3 separate regions of the Homo sapiens genome follow, and all the other regions are linked to region 2. The links come from fine-mapping of genetic effects on gene expression. A gene starts in region 2. Each other region holds a variant in brackets. All regions are shown on one strand. Distances are between the middles of the regions.

Region 1 (2,764 bases), 87 kb before region 2:
AAGAAATATGTCCCTGTGTATTCTATTAGTAATGACAATCACTTTTGTCTATAATCAGACTTCTGAGCCTATTCCAAGGCCCATTTGTGTACTTCCTTGTAAAATCCAGTTTTAGCAAAGAACCCTACTAAGTCAGTTTGGCAAGGACCCCTCACCCTAGCTATCTGATCACTGTTGGATTCTGATCAGATTCCTCATCCTCCACCATCCCCCAGGCAACATCTGATCACCCGGGCCTGTCTTCAGCTACAATTCTGTTAGGCTGGTTTAGCCAGAATCCACTTTACCCCTGATGTTTCCTCCGAGTAATTTTCTGTCTACCGACAGCCACACTGCTCCTTGGCCATAAATTCCCACTTGTCCATGCTGGATTCAGAGTTGAGTCCAGTCTCTTTTCTGTGCCGCAAGAGCTCATTGCAGTGGTCCCTGTACCTTTGTGATGATCCTGAATAAAGTCTTCCCAACCATAATTTAACAAGTGACATTGAGTAATTTTTTTCTTTAACAAGAGACATTTGGATTTTAATTTCTGTTACAGGTATAATAAAAGGTTCAGTGGTCCCTACTTTACAAAGAGGAACATACATAAAGATAGGAGGTTTCTAGTGATTTCTGTTCAGGATTGCTTTCTAAACTGGGCATAAACAAGTTCCTTCAGCTAGGTCTCTTTGATACTGTGGCCTGGAATTTGTTTTTCTTTTTCTTTTTTTTTTTTTTTTTGAGATGGAGTTTTGCTCTTGTTGCCCAGGCTGGAGTGCAATGGCACAATCTCAGCTCACTGCAACCTCCACCACCCGGGTTCAAGTGATTCTCCTGCCTCAGCCTCCCAAATAGCTGGGATTACAAGCATACGCCACCACACCTGGCTAATTTTGTATTTTTAGTAGAGACGGGGTTTCTTCGTGTTGGTCAGGCTGGTCTCGAACTCCCGACCTCAGGTGATTCACCTGCCTCCGCTTCCCAAAGTGCTGGGATTACAGGAGTGAGCCACTGTGCCCAGCCACTCTTTTTTCTTTTTTTTGGACAGAGTCTCACTCTATTGCCCAGGCTGGAGTGCAGTGGTGCAATCTCAGCTCACTGCAGCCTCTGCCTCCTGGGTTCAAGTGATTCTCCTGTCTCAGCCTCTCAAGTAGCCAGTATTACAGGCACACGCCACCACACCAGGTTAATTTTTGTATTTTTGGTAGAGATGGGGTTTTGCCGTGTTGGCCAGGCTGGTCTCAAACTCCTGACCTCAAGTGATTCACCTGCCTCAGCCTCCCAAAGTGTTGGGATTACAGGCATGAGCCACCATGCCCAGCCTGGAATTTCATGTTTAACTTAGACTCTGGAAATTCCAAATGAGTTTTAACACAAACAAATTATTTGAGAAATTCAGGTCTCTGTTTCTTTACCTATGAAATGGTGACTGCTTATGCTTGCCTTGATAGACTACTAGGATGAAAGGAAATGACGAATATTGAAGTCCTTCACAAATCTAACAAAATGTGAA[A/C]TATGATTGTATTTATAGTTTACGTATTGCAAGCAGATGCTGCAGAATAAGTGTTTCAGATTGAAATTTCTTGAAGAACCCCTAGCCTTTTCCATACCAAATAAACAGATCTCTGGAGGACAGGACCTCTGACATTTGTACCTTCTTTCCATCCCTCTGTACCCCTGTACTTCCTGCAGCCCTTCCCTTCACCACCACCATGTCCCTCCTGCTGCTGCAGAGTCTGCTTGCAGGGCCTTTACACCAGGGAGAGCAGGCAGATGGAGGAGCATGGACAGATACATTCCTCTCCTGGCAGTGTCCATTACTTCTCATTCTACTCATTGAGACTCCAAAGTCAGAGTGAAATACTGAGGGATATGAATTCCTGTACTGTGTGGCAGCCATTGCCACATTCAACATACGATGTCAGATGTGTGCAAGATGAGGCTACTCACGAGACACAGAGGCACAGGACTCCTGGTATCGACTCGCTGTCTCTTAAAAGAAAGTTGCCATCCACCCCTTCCTTGAGCAGCAAGGTCTCACAGTCTTGCTTGGTCAGACGTCCATGGTAGTAAGGCAGATCCATGGAGAACGCTCTTGTATCCCAGGAAGCCCTGTTGGCCTGAAATTCACCCCCAAGTCAAGGGACAGCTCTGAGGAGAGATGTGTAAGCAGCTGTACCTCCTGTGGAGCTACCTCTTCCTCTAGCGGTCTGTGGGACTCAGCCAGCTTCACAAGATTCAGGAAATGAGGAGGGCGGGGTGATAAAATGACCAACACTTTTCACCCTCTAAATGGCCCACATGTGACTCACAGAAGTAGGTAAAGCACATTTAAACACACAATGGAATCAGTGATGCTCATGGCTAGGGAGGCAATGCTGAAGTCAAGCTTCCTGGAACTGTGTTGCAGCCTTGTATATTACCATGGACTATCATCAACTTCTTTGGCTACTGGTATCCTTTCCAGGAAGCACACCGCTGCTTTTGCTGTAATGGTACCCATTTTCTGCTGAAGTTGCCTAGGATTGGGCTATGCTTAGCTTAGACTGGGTGCTCAAAAACCATTTGGATGCTGAGAGAATTGATATGCTCAGATACAATGGGAAAATTGAAAGGGTGGGATTTCCGTGGATCAAATGACACTAAAAATGGAAGACATTAATGGCAATAAAAAACAGTGGGACACTGTGGATGAGGACAGCCCATTCCATGGCTAAGGCTCCCAGCCACTGGTGAAAAAAGGCCATTTGAACACCCTCAAGCATTGTTCCTTTTGGAGAAAGGG
Region 2 (2,764 bases):
ATGACTGAAAAGTAAAGAAGGCTACATTTCTTACACACTCGAGTTTGTGGATTGAGATGCCTATTTGCTACATTTGTTACTCAATAAACGTTTGCTGAATGAATAAAATAATTGAATAAATAAATGAAAAATAAAAATTTGGAACAGATCCGTGTTTGCCCAGGGTGAATGCTTTTTGATGAGGGAGCCATAGGCAAGGTGGACTATGTTGATAAAAAGAGTTAAACTCTGTAAAATATTTGAAGAGATTTATTCTGAGCCAACTATGAGTGACCATGGTCTGTGACACAGCCCTCAGGAGATCCTGAGAACATGTACCCAAGGTGGTTGGGGTGCAGCTTGGTTTTATACATTTTGGGAGACATGAGACTTCAATCAAATATATTTAAGAAATACATTGATTTGGCCCAGAAAGGTGGGAAAACTCGAAGCGGGAATTGGTGGGGGGAGAAATGGGTCCTTCCAGGTTATAGGTAGATTTAAAATTTTTCTAATTGGCAATTGGTTGAAAGAGTTATCAATAGAAAGGAATGTCTGGGTTGTCATAAGAACTTGTGGAGACCAAAGTTTTGTCATGCAGATGAAGCCTCCAGGTACCAGGCTTCCAAGAAAATAGATTGTAAATGTTTCTTACCAGACCGAAGGTCTGTGTTGACCTTAACCGGAGAGGTATGAGGCTAGTCGGACCCCCACTTCCCGTCATGGACTGAACCAGAATTTTAGAGTGCCCTGGCCTGGGAGAAAGTCCATTCCGATGGTTGGCGACACGGGGGGCTTAGAATTGTATTTTCGGTTTACATCTAAAAGAAGAACAAAGGTCTAGGCTTCCAGAATCATGGGTTCTGGTGACCGTGGACCTGGAGGTGATGGTAAACTCTCTTTTTGTTCCTGGGGTGTTTTCCTTGGGATCCTTTCTATGAGAAATGTAGGCCGGGTTTTATTTTTCGGGTTCCTAGTGGTGAGGTAAGGTGAGGTGCCTCAACAAGAAAAAGGACCAGTTTTGGCTTCAGGTCTATGTGAAAGCGGTTAACACTGGGCCTGGAATGGTAGATACTCAATAATTAAGGTTACTTCTTATTCTCGGTTCTTTTTTCCAAACCTAGCGCGTCTAATCTCTTCTAGGCCCCGCCCCTTCTGAGCCCCCCCTCCTTCGGCCTGTATGATAGGCTCTTCCTCCATTTCCGGCTTCTGGGACTCGGGTGCACCACGGCTTCCGGTGTCATGGCTGCTTGAAGTCCCGGGAGTCGGTGAGGCGGCTGCAGGTCCCTCCCTGCGGAGCCGCTGGTCCGGCTGGCGGAGATGTGACCGCGGGCCCGGCCGGCCTGCCTCAGGCGTCGCGTCAGCTCCCGTGTCCGTGCCCTTAACCCACACCGATGGCGGGATCCGGCTGCGCCTGGGGCGCGGAGCCGCCGCGTTTTCTGGAGGCCTTCGGGCGGCTGTGGCAGGTACAGAGCCGTCTGGGTAGCGGCTCCTCCGCCTCGGTGTATCGGGTTCGCTGCTGCGGCAACCCTGGCTCGCCCCCCGGCGCCCTCAAGCAGTTCTTGCCGCCAGGAACCACCGGGGCTGCGGCCTCTGCCGCCGAGTATGGTTTCCGCAAAGAGAGGGCGGCGCTGGAACAGTTGCAGGGTCACAGAAACATCGGTAATTGCCGCTGTCTCCTTTCTCTTCTTGCCCAGGTCACAGTCCGAGCACACTCTTCCTCTCGCTGTCTGGCGTTCCATCTTCCTCCCCTTCTGCGGGAGAAGCGGGTTTAGCCCTCTTTATCACCCCATCCAGGCCCCTTTCCCCTTTCACTTTATTACTGTCTGCGGTATAGTGGAGTTGGTGGTCTGCTTTGCCAGGTGTCACATAGATGCTCAGTAAATTGTCTTGCTTCGAGTCTCATCGGAGAATGCCGCATTCATTAGCATACAGAAATATCTTTTCTAGTGAGAGGAGGCATGTCTTTGCTAGATTGTCGTGTCTTGTGTGGAAATTTTTGAATCTTTGCATACCAGTAGAAAATGGGAACTACGTCTGGGCCTTGTGACATCAATGCTAGTAACTCGTATAGCTCACCTATTATATCTTTAGTACGGATTTGGAAGAAATGATGCACTATTCCATGGGAGCCTTTATAGAAGTGTGAAATTTAGGAACACTATACCTTTGCTCTCTTGAGACTGTTTCAAGAATCAGATACTCAGAATGTAAGATATGTAATGATCACTGATGATTGATCTGTGAAAAGGTTTCATTTTCATTACACGACAGAAAGCTTATCATTAGTTATAGCTTTGGTTATTAAAGAAAAGTCTTATTTCCTAGCAAGTATGATGCATAGTTAATTTGAAGAGTGAGTTTTTTTATAATATCATTTTGGAGAAGAATTAACACTAGTGCTACATTTTTTTAGTTTACTAAATGGTCTGTTACTATAACCTTGGTATTGAAAAGGGAAAAATTTTGCAAGCCTAGGGACTTGCCTGATCTCTGCAAGATTAAAATTTCATCCGAAAAGTCTTAATCTCTTTGTTAGTATTTAGATTATAGAGAGCTGTTTATTTTTGTTTTAGTTTTTTTTTTTGAGACAAGTTCTTACTCTGTCACCCAGGCTGGAGTACAATGGCGAGATCACAGTTCACTCCAGCCTCCAATTCCTCCTAAAGCCATGCTCCTACCTCAGCCTCCCAGGTAGCTGGGACTACAGGCACGTAGCACCAAGCCTGGCTAATTTTTTGTAGAGAAGAGGTCCCCTTTTGTTACCCAGGCTGGTCTCCAAACT
Region 3 (2,764 bases), 89 kb after region 2:
ATGGCGCAATCTTGGCTCACTGCAATCTCTGCCTCCCAGGTTCAAGTGATTCTGCTGCCTCAGCCTCCTGAATCGCTGGGATTACAGTGCCTACCACCATGCCTGGCTAATTTTTTTTTTTAATTTTCAGTAGAGATGGGGTTTCACCATGTTGGCCAGGCTGGTCTTGAACTCCTGACCTCAGATGATACACCCACCTCAGCCTCCCAAAGTGCTGAGATTATAGGTGTGAGCTACCACGCCCGTTCTATACTTTATATCTTTTCTGTATAATATAAATGGATTCCCACTTCATTCAGTTTACAAATGCTTTCTTCTGTAATGTAGACTTTTAAAATATTTAGAGGTTAATAGTTGCCATAGAAGTAAACCTTTGGGAAATGTAAAATGTGAATATGTATATTTTTATTTTTATGGCTGGTTGGGAGTAGGAGTATATAGTGGTGACTGGAAAATAAACCTGTGTGCGTTAAAAAAAAAAAAGAGAGAGAATAAGGGGAATCTATCCCAAATTCCCTGCCTAGTAAGATACCCACTGTAGGTAGAGTACATGAAGTAAGAGATGGTGATGGGTTGGTAGATAAGAATTGTAAATAGGCCCATGATTGATTTAAATAATTTGCTGCATAATGTTCCCCTTCAGTTTAATCTACTTCCTCGGTAGAAAGTTTCTTTTCATTAAGAACTGTGTTCCTTTCAGGGTGGCAAACAGTGAACCACACAACAGGCTTACTTATCCAGCAGTCCTGCCTCACTGAGCTGGACTCAGTGCCTATATCTCTAATTGCTGTGTAAATGAAGTTCTCAATAGTGGCTTTAGTTTTCTGGATGAGACTGTTACTGACTGTATTTATTTTAAGAAATCAGTTGTTGAAGAAAAGTCTTAACTTTATTAATATAATTTCATGTCTACTTAGGATAGACTTGTCAAATTGGGGACAGAGTTTTAAACATATTTTGAAGCATGCTGAATTGATAATTAGACTGGACAAACAAAACAATACCTTCAAATAGATAGGGATTTTTGAGACAGGGTCTTACTCTGTTGCCCAGGCTCGAGTGGAGTGCAGTGGTGCAATCACGTTTCACTGTAGCCTCAACCTCCCCAGACTCAGGTGATCCTCTTTCCTCAGTCTCCCTAGTAGCTGAGACTCCAGCATGCCACCACGCCTGGCTAATTTTTTTATTTTTTAAATAGAAGCCAGGGTTTCACCTTGTTGCCTAGGTTGACAAATATTTTTTATTGTTTGTTTCTTCGGTTGGATATTTATCTTATCTGAACCTTGATTTTATATTAGTGCATTGCATATAGTTCTTTTATAATTTTCTTCTAAACACTTAAGTCAGTGATGTGTGGGATTAGTGTGGTGGCATACCAAAATCACTTGTGAGGTTTTTAAAAATTACATATTCTTAATTTTCCCTCTGATT[T/G]TAGTATACCCTCTTTTCTCAGCTCCCCATCAGCCCAGAGCCATTGATAAATTATCACATCACTGGTTTTCAGAATTATTTTTTTGAAGTATAGAATCACTTATTTCAAACAAAATTGAGTATACAAAACAGATAAATATGGGTGGGTTTTCTAATTAAAGTTGGAGTGGGAGGCTAGTGACCTGCCTGCTCTAAACCCCTTTACCTCCTACTCAGGTCCCTGAAACACAAGGAAAATGCCAAAATTAAAGAAATGCTTTTTTCAAATGAAATATCGGGCAATAGAAAATGAGAGACAAAATGCCTAACTTAGGTCTTTTGTCTTGTGAATCCCAGAGAAATTTCATTTTATTTATTATGAAAGTAATTGAGGTGGTTAAGGATAAATTAAATAAAAAGTACAAGATACATGGGGGATGTTGACTCCTGATGTAATTATTCCCACTCCAATGTGATTTACTCTGTGCTAGATATATGTATATGATGGAATTTCTAGCCCAAGGTTTAGTTAGGTGATAAATAGGAAGGAAATAATATACCTCATTTCCAGTTGGAAAGTGCCTGTCAAGGTATATAAAGATGGATAGTTGATTGTCTAAAGTTAAAGATTCTTCTTGGCTTTATACCTTTTAGTGTAAGCAAAGTTGTAAATGTCATCTTTGACAATGGCAAATCTCCAAAGAAACATTTAATTCAATTTCCTCCTCTACTGTTTTTCTCTGGTGGACAGGTGGTAGAGAAAACGAACCCTACAGAACCAGTTGGAGTGGTTTGCCGAGTGGATGGAGTTTACCAGGTGGTAGAATATAGTGAGATTTCCCTGGCAACAGCTCAAAAACGAAGCTCAGACGGACGACTGCTGTTCAATGCGGGGAACATTGCCAACCATTTCTTCACTGTACCATTTCTGAGAGATGTTGTCAAGTATGGGCAAGATGGGGGCCTTTTAAAATTATATTTATTGTTAATCAGAAACTAAGACACTTGAGAGGGATGCAGACACCCCAAGTCCATATCCCACAGAATTCATCTTTCCTGAGGATCACTTATCAAATGGACATTTATCTCATGTTGTGATTGTTTTTAGTAAGATGTATTGTAAGGTGGGAATCATCGGAGCCCATTCCCCAGCGCATTAATGGGAGGCCAAAGCATTTCTCCCTTCTCACCCTCCCACCCCCAACTATGTGCTAGGTTCTGTTGAAGCAAAGCATAAGAAATGAAACTTTCTTTACCACAGCTGTGAGCTTTTTAAAAATACAGATGTTCACCTTACACCAACTGAATTAGAATTTCAGGAGGTGGGTTCGGGGCATCTATATTTTTAGAAAGC

What was found. PIP is the estimated chance that this variant, and not a neighbour inherited with it, causes the effect. A credible set is the group of variants that fine-mapping cannot tell apart.
Region 1: its variant is the best candidate, but not a certain one, in a credible set for the expression of UHMK1 in whole blood (TOPMed, PIP 0.75).
Region 3: its variant is the best candidate, but not a certain one, in a credible set for the expression of UHMK1 in whole blood (INTERVAL, PIP 0.76).

The regions. Positions count from the first base shown.
Region 1 is chr1:162,409,954-162,412,717 of GRCh38, forward strand. SH2D1B (SH2 domain containing 1B) reads right to left here and starts at 2,183. Exons shown (of 4, transcript NM_053282.5): 1 at 1,930-2,183. The coding sequence starts at 2,063. The variant A/C (reference allele first, on the strand shown) is at 1,493.
Region 2 is chr1:162,496,628-162,499,391 of GRCh38, forward strand. UHMK1 (U2AF homology motif kinase 1) reads left to right here and starts at 1,191. Exons shown (of 8, transcript NM_175866.5): 1 at 1,191-1,641. The coding sequence starts at 1,374. RefSeq lists enhancers at 927-1,427, 1,162-1,241, 1,428-1,928.
Region 3 is chr1:162,585,314-162,588,077 of GRCh38, forward strand. UAP1 (UDP-N-acetylglucosamine pyrophosphorylase 1) reads left to right here. Exons shown (of 11, transcript NM_001324116.5): 6 at 2,162-2,355. Among named protein-coding and RNA genes, the nearest start is that of UAP1, 25 kb to the left of the region's middle. The variant T/G (reference allele first, on the strand shown) is at 1,432.